Linked DNA regions of Homo sapiens: all the other regions are linked to region 1. Evidence: fine-mapped expression QTL. A gene starts in region 1. Each other region holds a variant in brackets. All regions are shown on one strand. Distances are between the middles of the regions.

Region 1 (2,765 bases):
GTGGGAGGATGCTTGAGCCGGCGAGGCGGAGGTTGCAGCGAGCCGAGATCGCGCCACTGCACTCCAGCCTGGGCGACAGAGAGAATCCCTGTCTCAAAAAAACAAAAACAACTTCCCCAACCCCGCCCCCCGCCCAAACCCTCACAACTTTCTGGCTGTAGGAATTCTCGTTTTGCAGCTGAGGAAACAGGTTTGGAAATTAGACTGCATACCTAAAATCACTTGGCTCATCAACCTACAGCTCCCTCTAGGGGGCTGCCTCGCCCTTATTGGTTATGTGCACATTTGGGGTGAATTCCACGGTCATCTAACAGAACTGTTTTGGTAGTCCCAGGTAAACTTACGGTACGGAAATTTGTTTCTTGAGGATACAAAAAAGAAAGGTGTCAGGGGGAAAGTAAAAATTCAACTCCTAAAACATCGCGTGTAGAGTCAGGCAGTCACTTCATAAAGAGTTCAGTCGATGAAGTTTCACTCTTGAAACTTTACTGTATGTATGCAAGCCCTAACTATTAATACAGGTGACAGCATCCACCTTATCTTCCATTCTCCCTAAGCCCTGAGGGTGGGGATGGGGGGGGGGGCACTCCAATCACCTGAGCCTAAGAACATAGCCTAAGAACATGTGTCTGGCATGGTCTGGTTATTTATAGCCTAAAAAAAAAAAAAGCCAGCTTCTTGTCCGATTCAGGCTTTCCCTGCCCAAACCCACTAGCTTAATGCGATATTGACATTACCAGGAAATGCATACGTCCCAAATGCATCTGCTTATAGATGTTTTTACCTCCTGAAATAATACCGGGTCACAAATACTGTTGTGTTTTTTGCAGAGAGCTTCTACTGCTCATTTAATTCAGGGGCGTTGGATTTGTGCTGAGCGTAATTTGACTCCAAGCATGCAAACTGATCAACTTCTTCCCGTGTGTTTGGGGAGTACAAGTGACTACTGCGACTCCTCAAATGTTTTTCTTTTCCTTTTCACGTGGAGGAAAGCGAATTCTCCGAAGACTGTTCGGCGTTCTACGCAGGGGTTGGAAGGGGGGTTCCTGAGTCACCTCTGGCTGCGCGGGGGGCCTGTGTGTACCCTCAGGGACACCAGGCTGGAATCGTCCACCTTACTTTCAAATGATAAAAGTGCGGAGGGTCTTTCTGCCCCTAAGTCGCGTACAGGATTGCCTGTTTACGGAGTACACTTTCACACACTTCTTTCCCGGTGGTGCAGTCTCGTGGCGGCAGAGCCTTTAGGAAGGCTCTGGGGGGAGACAAGATCAGTGGCGACCACGCCTCCCATGTTACAGCGCTCGCTTCCTACTGGGGGTTGGCGGGGACACCAAGGCTCTCCAGCCCGGGAACACGGAGTTCGGCTCCGTTGTACCCAACTGGAAAGCTGTGGAAACACAAAACTCGGGCGGCGACAGCACCAGCCGATTTTCCGCTCTCTTGGCTCTTTCTTCCGCTTGCACCGCCCCCACCCCGGCTCCTCCGCTCAGCACACAGGAACCCACATCCCCCACCACTCCCGCGTTTCTCTCCTGCCACCAGCTGGGGCCTGCCTTTTATAGGCGCCGCAGCCAATGAGCACGCTTCTTTCCTTCTGCCCGCCCGCCTGGCCAATCGCCGCGCCCCTTGTGTAATCTCCGGCTAGTCGGCTGCTTTCGGCTATTTTCGCTGTTGCTGGCTTTTTCAGGAGCTGCTCGCTCGCAGCCAGAGACGCTGCTTTTTTTTTCCGGGTTCGGAGCCGTTCCGGATGCTTTAGGCTGCCGGATGTCTGATCTCCGAATAACTGAGGCGTTTCTGTACATGGATTATCTGGTAGGTGCAGGGCAGGGGTGGCATGTCGCCTCTCGGATCTCGGCGTGCCCGATGGCCCCCTGCCTTGAGGAGCAGCCTTTTTGCTTTCTTTCTTTGGGATAGGATGCCTCTGGGGTTCTTTCTCCCGCAGCCGGCTGGTAAGCCTTTCCCTGGACTCGGAGGGGCAGCCTCCAGGGCGGGTGGGTGGTGGAGCTGACAGGTAAAGGTGCGGCCTGGGCCAGCACGGCTGCAGGGCGAGGGTCGCGCTGGGGCTGCTTGAGAGATGGGGCGGCCGCGGCGGCGCGTCCCCTGCCCGCGATCGGCTTCCTGGCTTCCCTCTGCGCTCTCCGCAGAGGACTTTCTTTCCGGGGGAGCAGGAGTTTTCCTCTCTCCCTGGAGCAGAACTCCAGGTGCTATTAAAGAGCCATAACCAGAATGGCTCACTAAGTGCCCAGCAGCCCTGGTCATTTGATTGTTATTAAATCTCTAAAGCTATGACCTCGGTCGTGGCGGGGTTTTAAAAGCACATTACCATAAAGCAGACGGGTCTAAACTACCTCGCAGGCTGGCACGAACAGGACTGAGTAGGGACAGGTATAGCCCCACCATTCCGGTCTTGGGTGCGTGCCGCGGTTCCACTGTGCACGGATTGGAACCCGGCTGTTTAGGCCAGGCTTGTGCTGAGAAGTTTAGGTGGGAAAAGTGTCAGCACAGTGCTGGGACCGAACATCATTTTAAAAATGGACTTCTATGTGTCTTTGTGGAATTATGCGAGCACCATGTTTTGTTCCAGAAATTATATTTCCCCAGAGTTGCTTGTTTGCGTTTAAGGGGATCCTCATTTACAGAGACTTGTGTTCGATCCTATACGATTATTGTGTTTACCATGTTGGGCAGAACCGCTATTGCCATGCAGAGTTGAAGTAGACGGTTAGAAACATTGACCCTCCTGTCATCTTGTTGGACACATGCAC
Region 2 (2,765 bases), 37 kb before region 1:
AGCCAAATGTACCTGAAATTTTTATTGTCTTCCCAGGAATATGGAACCAAACATTGGCTTTCAACTATTTCTGCGATTTATAAATCACCACATCAATATATTCAATTTGGATCATTTTATCTTTTCCATGACAAGTCATGGAATGCAGAACCTTTAATAACAAAAGCTTTAAGGACTCAGGAAGGACAAGGCAGCCATCCTGATTCTTCATGAGTCCATACTTAACATTGAATGAATACCAGTTGTTTAACCAATTTAGGAGCATAGCACTGATAACTAATGGGTTATCATAGGTAATTTGACTTACACTGTGGAGTTCATTCAAATTGTATATCTAGTATTGGCTGATTTCACATGATAATTGGGCAAAGTATTTTCTTGGTATTTAATTAATTTTTCTTATACTTAAGTTGGAAGTTTTATAAATCAGTCAGTCTTTTTATTAAGGTTTCAGGAGTTCTTATCCAGACCAATTCTTGGGGAATTCATGGGGAATTCTTACCCATGATATAATTTTAAAGTTGTTAGAAAACTTTATTCAAGAGTGCTTTTCAGGGTTCTTTCTATCCTTTCATGACCTCTTAAAAGACATCATATTCTGGGATTTTTGTGTGCTTATGGAGTTTTTAGAAACTGCAAGAGCATTAAGCAATTAATTGTAGAAATGAGTTTAAATAGTGATAGTTAAAAACACAATTGACAAGGAAATTTCGTTATCTCTCTGGTCTACAATAACTTAACATTATAACCTTAATTATGATTGATATCATATACTCAGACATATTAGGGTTTTAGAAATCCCTATATATATATATATATATAATTTTGGAAAATATATTAATATCATCACTAAAATATAACCTGAAGATTCAACATTATTTTAATGCTTCCCATGATTTTTATACCAAATAAGCCAAATGTCACTGTTGCATTAGTGCATTATTGATGTCAAACCCAATTCTTAATAAAACCTTACAGACAAATGTATTCAATCTTAATTAGTTTGATCATAAAATAAGAACTTTATAAACCTTTTATAATCCTTTACAATTTTTGTTAAAGGGCAGATTAGTGCTCTAAGAAAAACCTGTTGTGCTTTTATTTTGATGTTCAATTTATGGAAAAACCAAATAATACCCCTTTAAATTTAGTCAGTATTTTCACTCATAGAATTTTTTGCAAGGTTAATTTTTTTTTTTTTTTTTTTTTGAGACGGAGTCTCACTCTGTCGCCCAGGCTGGAGTGCAGTGGTGGGATCTCGGCTCACTGCAAGCTCCACCTCCCGGGTTCACACCATTCTCCTGCCTCAGCCTCCCAAGTAGCTGGGACTACAGGCGCCCGCCACTACGCCCGGCTAATTTTTTGTATTTTTAGTAGAGACGGGGTTTCACCGTTTTAGCCGGGATGGTCTCGATCTCCTGACCTCGTGATCCGCCTGCCTCGGCCTCCCAAAGTGCTGGGATTACAGGCGTGAGCCACCGGCAAGGTTAATTTTTATAA[A/G]CCTTCCACAACTTGTTTAAACCTTTAGCTTTATTTAATTTAAAACAATCCTTTAACTGTTTAATCTAGGCAAAAAGTTCAAATTCCCATGACTTCTAATAATCTTTTACCAAAAGTATATTCTACTTTCCTTACACACCTTGCATGTAAACTGTTTTGTTCAGTAGTCTCATATACATGTTATACTGTTAACCCTTAGTGATTTTTACCTCTGCTGAAAAGCCTGGTTAGTAAGTGATTCTAATTACGTACCAGTGTGGAACCTAGGACCCAGACAAAAATTCAGGTAAGGTCTGACTCTTTCCAGCATCTAACTCCACGTGTCACAGGCTTTACATAGCTGTTAAGCAGGCATGCTGTACAGTTAAGAGTCATAGTGGCATTTTATGAAGCATTTAGGAGCCCTAATCACCTTTAAGTTGTACGTTTCTTGGATAAATGCGTTTCATAAATTATTTCACAACTTATGCAGACAATCTATGACATGCTTGGACTTTCTGACTCATCCTAAATATCCCTCTTTTTAAACAACCAGTCATTTTACTTTCGGACAAGAATTTACCATACAATATACTTTCTTATATAAAATCTCTCTTCTTTACAACCTTCTTTGCATAGCTAGGGTGCATGGCTAATTCCACATGTCCTCAGGCCTCATCTAGAATCTAACATATCCAAGGTAAGTAAATTGAACAACTTTCAAAAGTCAAAGAAGCTGATTATGACCTGAAAGCATTTAGTAAACTTAATATCTGACCTGCATAATTTAGACCAAATGTTTAAATTTTGCCAATAATTTTTAAAGCTGTTCTTATTTCCTAAAGATTAGTACAGTTATGTAAACTAAAAGGCATTACAGTTTTTATTTTTCTTTCAAAATATTTGATTTAAGCACTTATTTTTGTTTAAGCCAATTAATTAGAGCTCTTTATATAAACATTACACACACGACACATATATAACTACACAGACAGAAGATTAGTACAGTAGTTGTAAGATTTTTCATTTGCCAATTTTTAAGTTTCTTAATTGGTTATTGGCTTTATGGTGGAGTCCTTGGAAGAACAGGGCCAGGAAAGGGTCTCTAGTGTCTCCTGTTTTTCCCAAGAAGTCCAGGCCATTAGAGCTTGAATACCACTTTTAATTACGCTGGCTTTTAACCATAGCACTCTTTAATAAAGTCCTTTTAAAATTTCTTAATACTTGACTTTAGCCAAGCTAAATGGACAATATTTCTGGCTTTTGAACTTTAGCAAACGTAACCT
Region 3 (2,765 bases), 59 kb after region 1:
GGAGGATCACCTGAGCTCCGAGGTCGATGCTGCAGGGATCTGTGATCACGCCATTGCACTCCAGCCTGGGTGACAGAGTGAGACCCTGTCTCAAAGAAAAAAAAAAAATCTGATTCCTTAAGTCAATTACATAACTAACTGTAACTTTAAAATTAACCTATTTCCAGTTTTCTCTTGAGGCTTGGCAGGGAACCCACTTGTGTTTGAATTGAGTGAGTACAGATTTTCATTTGGTGGTACTTTGTTTTTATCAGTTCTTCAATCTTCCTAACCTCTACTCCCAGCTCCCTGGGCTGGTGTTGATTACATGGGGTTACATGTTGATTACTTGGGCTGCTCTTGGTGCCCTGTGGAAGTGGTATGACCCAGCTTCATAATCCATTATTTGAAGAACGTGAGCCCCTTTAAATTTTCAGGCCCAAGAGAGGCATTGGAATGAAACAGGAGTCATATCACTCCCCTTGAGCTAAATAATTACCTCTTGAAGCCACTTGCTATTTGAGTGCTATGCTGACTGCTGCCGAGAAGCCATAAAATGCCGTATACCTATAGTTCAACAATGTATAGCCAATAATCAATGTTATTTTTGTAAGACAATGAGAATTCCTGGTGAACAATGATTGTAATTGTCCCCTCTCCTGATTCTTGCTTTTTTAAAAAAAAAAACTTGACCTCTGGGCCAGGCATGATGGCTTATGCCTGTAATCACAGCACTTTGGGAGGCTAAGGCGGGTGGATCACCTGAGCTCAGGAGTTTGTGACCAGCCTGGGCAACATGGCAAAACCCTGTCTCTACAAAAAATAAAAAACATTCCAGGCATGGTGGTGCGCGCCTCTATGGTCCCAGCTGCTCGGAAGGCTGAGGTGAAAGGATTGCTTGAGCCCGGAGGCAGAGGTTGCAGTGAGCCGAGATTGGGCCACTGCACTCCAGCCTGGGTGATAGAGTGAGACCTTGTCTCCAAAAATACAAAACAAAACAAACTTGTTCTCTCTTGAGTTCTCTGGAGCACCCCCTAAGGCAACTTGGAAGTGTCCCTGGCTGCAGTCTTCAGCCTTGGCCCAAATGAACTCCATGTTAATTTTGCCTCAGCTTCTTCCTTTTAGACATCACTTTGACCAATCCTGATTGACCCTCATCCTGTGACATGAACCCTGTCGGTGGTTAAACTGGTGAGAGAAATCTTGTCCTTTGTTAAATGCATGGTATCTTTATTAAAGACTTGTTTGCTGAAACTTCAGAAAGTCCAGGGAGCAAAAGCATAGATGAACTTCTAAGTAGCAAGTGTTTTCCTTTTAAAAAGAGCAAAATAAGTATCTAAAACCTGGACTTCAGAACTTTCTTGATGCTATTTTGCAACAGAAAGGTTTGAAGAAATGAACTGGATTGCACAAGGTGACTTAATGAGGCAGTCTCTTCCATAAAGAAAATTTACCTTAACTACTAGATCAACATTCCTTTTGCCTGGAGTGATGTCGAGATCCTTTTACTAAATGTTAAATGCATTCAGGAGTTTCCTAACACATTGCCACCTGCTTAGTTTGGTTTCTGTTGTCTGCCTGATGACTCACAG[A/G]CAATCTCTCCAGTTACTATAAGGTCCATAGCCCTTTGATCCTAGTCTGCATGTTGCTGATAGCATGGAATATCATTTCTTGTGTTCAATAAGGAAAAATTCAGAGAATTTTAAATTAGTCTTTTTCATTTATTCATTAAACAGTTGTTTGACGTGGTCCTCTGCTTCACTGGTTGTCAACTTTGATTGACTATGGGAATCCCATGGGCAGCAAAAGGCCAATATCTAGGTCTTACCCCAGGGATTCTGATGTACTAATTGGTTTGTGGTGTGGCCTAGCATTGGGATTTTTTAATGTCCTCCAGGGTGATTCTATTGTGCAGACAAGGCTGAGAACCACTGCTCTAAAGCTGATTGTGTTCTTAATTGGGGACACTTCATGCTTACCTTATTACACTACAGGTGTTCTTAAACAGGACAGTGTGGTGGACACTGAAGAAGTTAAAATCTACTTGTTGGATCCTTATTCTTGGAGATTCTGAATCAGTAGGTCTGAGGTCTTTAGGAATAGCTCCTTAGGTGGCAGTTCTGATGACATCCCTTTATGAGACACAGATACAGAATAACCATTTAAATAAACTTTAGAAATCTAGTAAGGGTACAGATAAGATGCCAGTACAGTTTATCAGCAGCCTCCGTTTTCTGCCATCCCTAGGTGCTGCAGTGGAAATACCATATTACAAACTGTTGCTGTTGACTAATGCTAATATTCAATTACTTTTTAAAAAGCCTGGCTTTCCTTAATTTAATTCTGCTTGTGGAAAAACATACTCAACAAACAAGAGTGGGAAAATTAAATGAAAATACCTAGATGTTTGTCAAAAGCCTACAGACGTATCTCTTTCTTTGCACTAAAGTTCAAAGCATGCTTAAGAGTTGTTTGGCCACCTTAGAATTTTGCAGTGTGTGTTTTATCATAAAAAGTGTGAGCCAGTAATTAAAGCTTTACATCATTGTTTACTTATCTTCTTCCTTCTTACCTGAATTAGGGGAGGGGCTTTCAAGTGAATCACTTTCTAAGCCTCTGTGCAAATTAGCAGTGTTGTGTTTCCTTCAGCTTTTCCAAGCCATGCTTAATAATTAGGAAGATAGGCTGATTCAATTTAATATAGCATCTGATTGAAAGCATTTGAAGTTAGATTACTAAATATAGTAAAACTATATTTAGTTAAATAAAGTTAGCCTGTCACTGTT

Alleles and levels. Positions count from the first base shown, and alleles are read on the strand shown. Sizes are in standard deviations (SD) of each study's normalised expression. Not every link is listed here.
For the expression in lung of the gene that starts at base 1,671 in region 1, allele G in region 3 goes with a lower level than allele A (small effect, 0.25 SD a copy in GTEx).

What was found. PIP is the estimated chance that this variant, and not a neighbour inherited with it, causes the effect. A credible set is the group of variants that fine-mapping cannot tell apart.
Region 2: its variant is the best candidate, but not a certain one, in a credible set for the expression of ARL15 in whole blood (INTERVAL, PIP 0.56).
Region 3: its variant is the best candidate, but not a certain one, in a credible set for the expression of ARL15 in lung (GTEx, PIP 0.85).

Annotation. Positions count from the first base shown.
Region 1 is chr5:54,309,479-54,312,243 of GRCh38, reverse strand. It overlaps ARL15 (ARF like GTPase 15), which reads left to right and starts at 1,671. Exons shown (of 5, transcript NM_019087.3): 1 at 1,671-1,812. The coding sequence starts at 1,765.
Region 2 is chr5:54,346,612-54,349,376 of GRCh38, reverse strand. All of the region lies in intron 1 of LINC01033 (long intergenic non-protein coding RNA 1033), which reads right to left. Among named protein-coding and RNA genes, the nearest start is that of LINC01033, 27 kb to the right of the region's middle. The variant A/G (reference allele first, on the strand shown) is at 1,501.
Region 3 is chr5:54,250,937-54,253,701 of GRCh38, reverse strand. All of the region lies in intron 1 of ARL15 (ARF like GTPase 15), which reads left to right. Among named protein-coding and RNA genes, the nearest start is that of ARL15, 58 kb to the left of the region's middle. The variant A/G (reference allele first, on the strand shown) is at 1,572.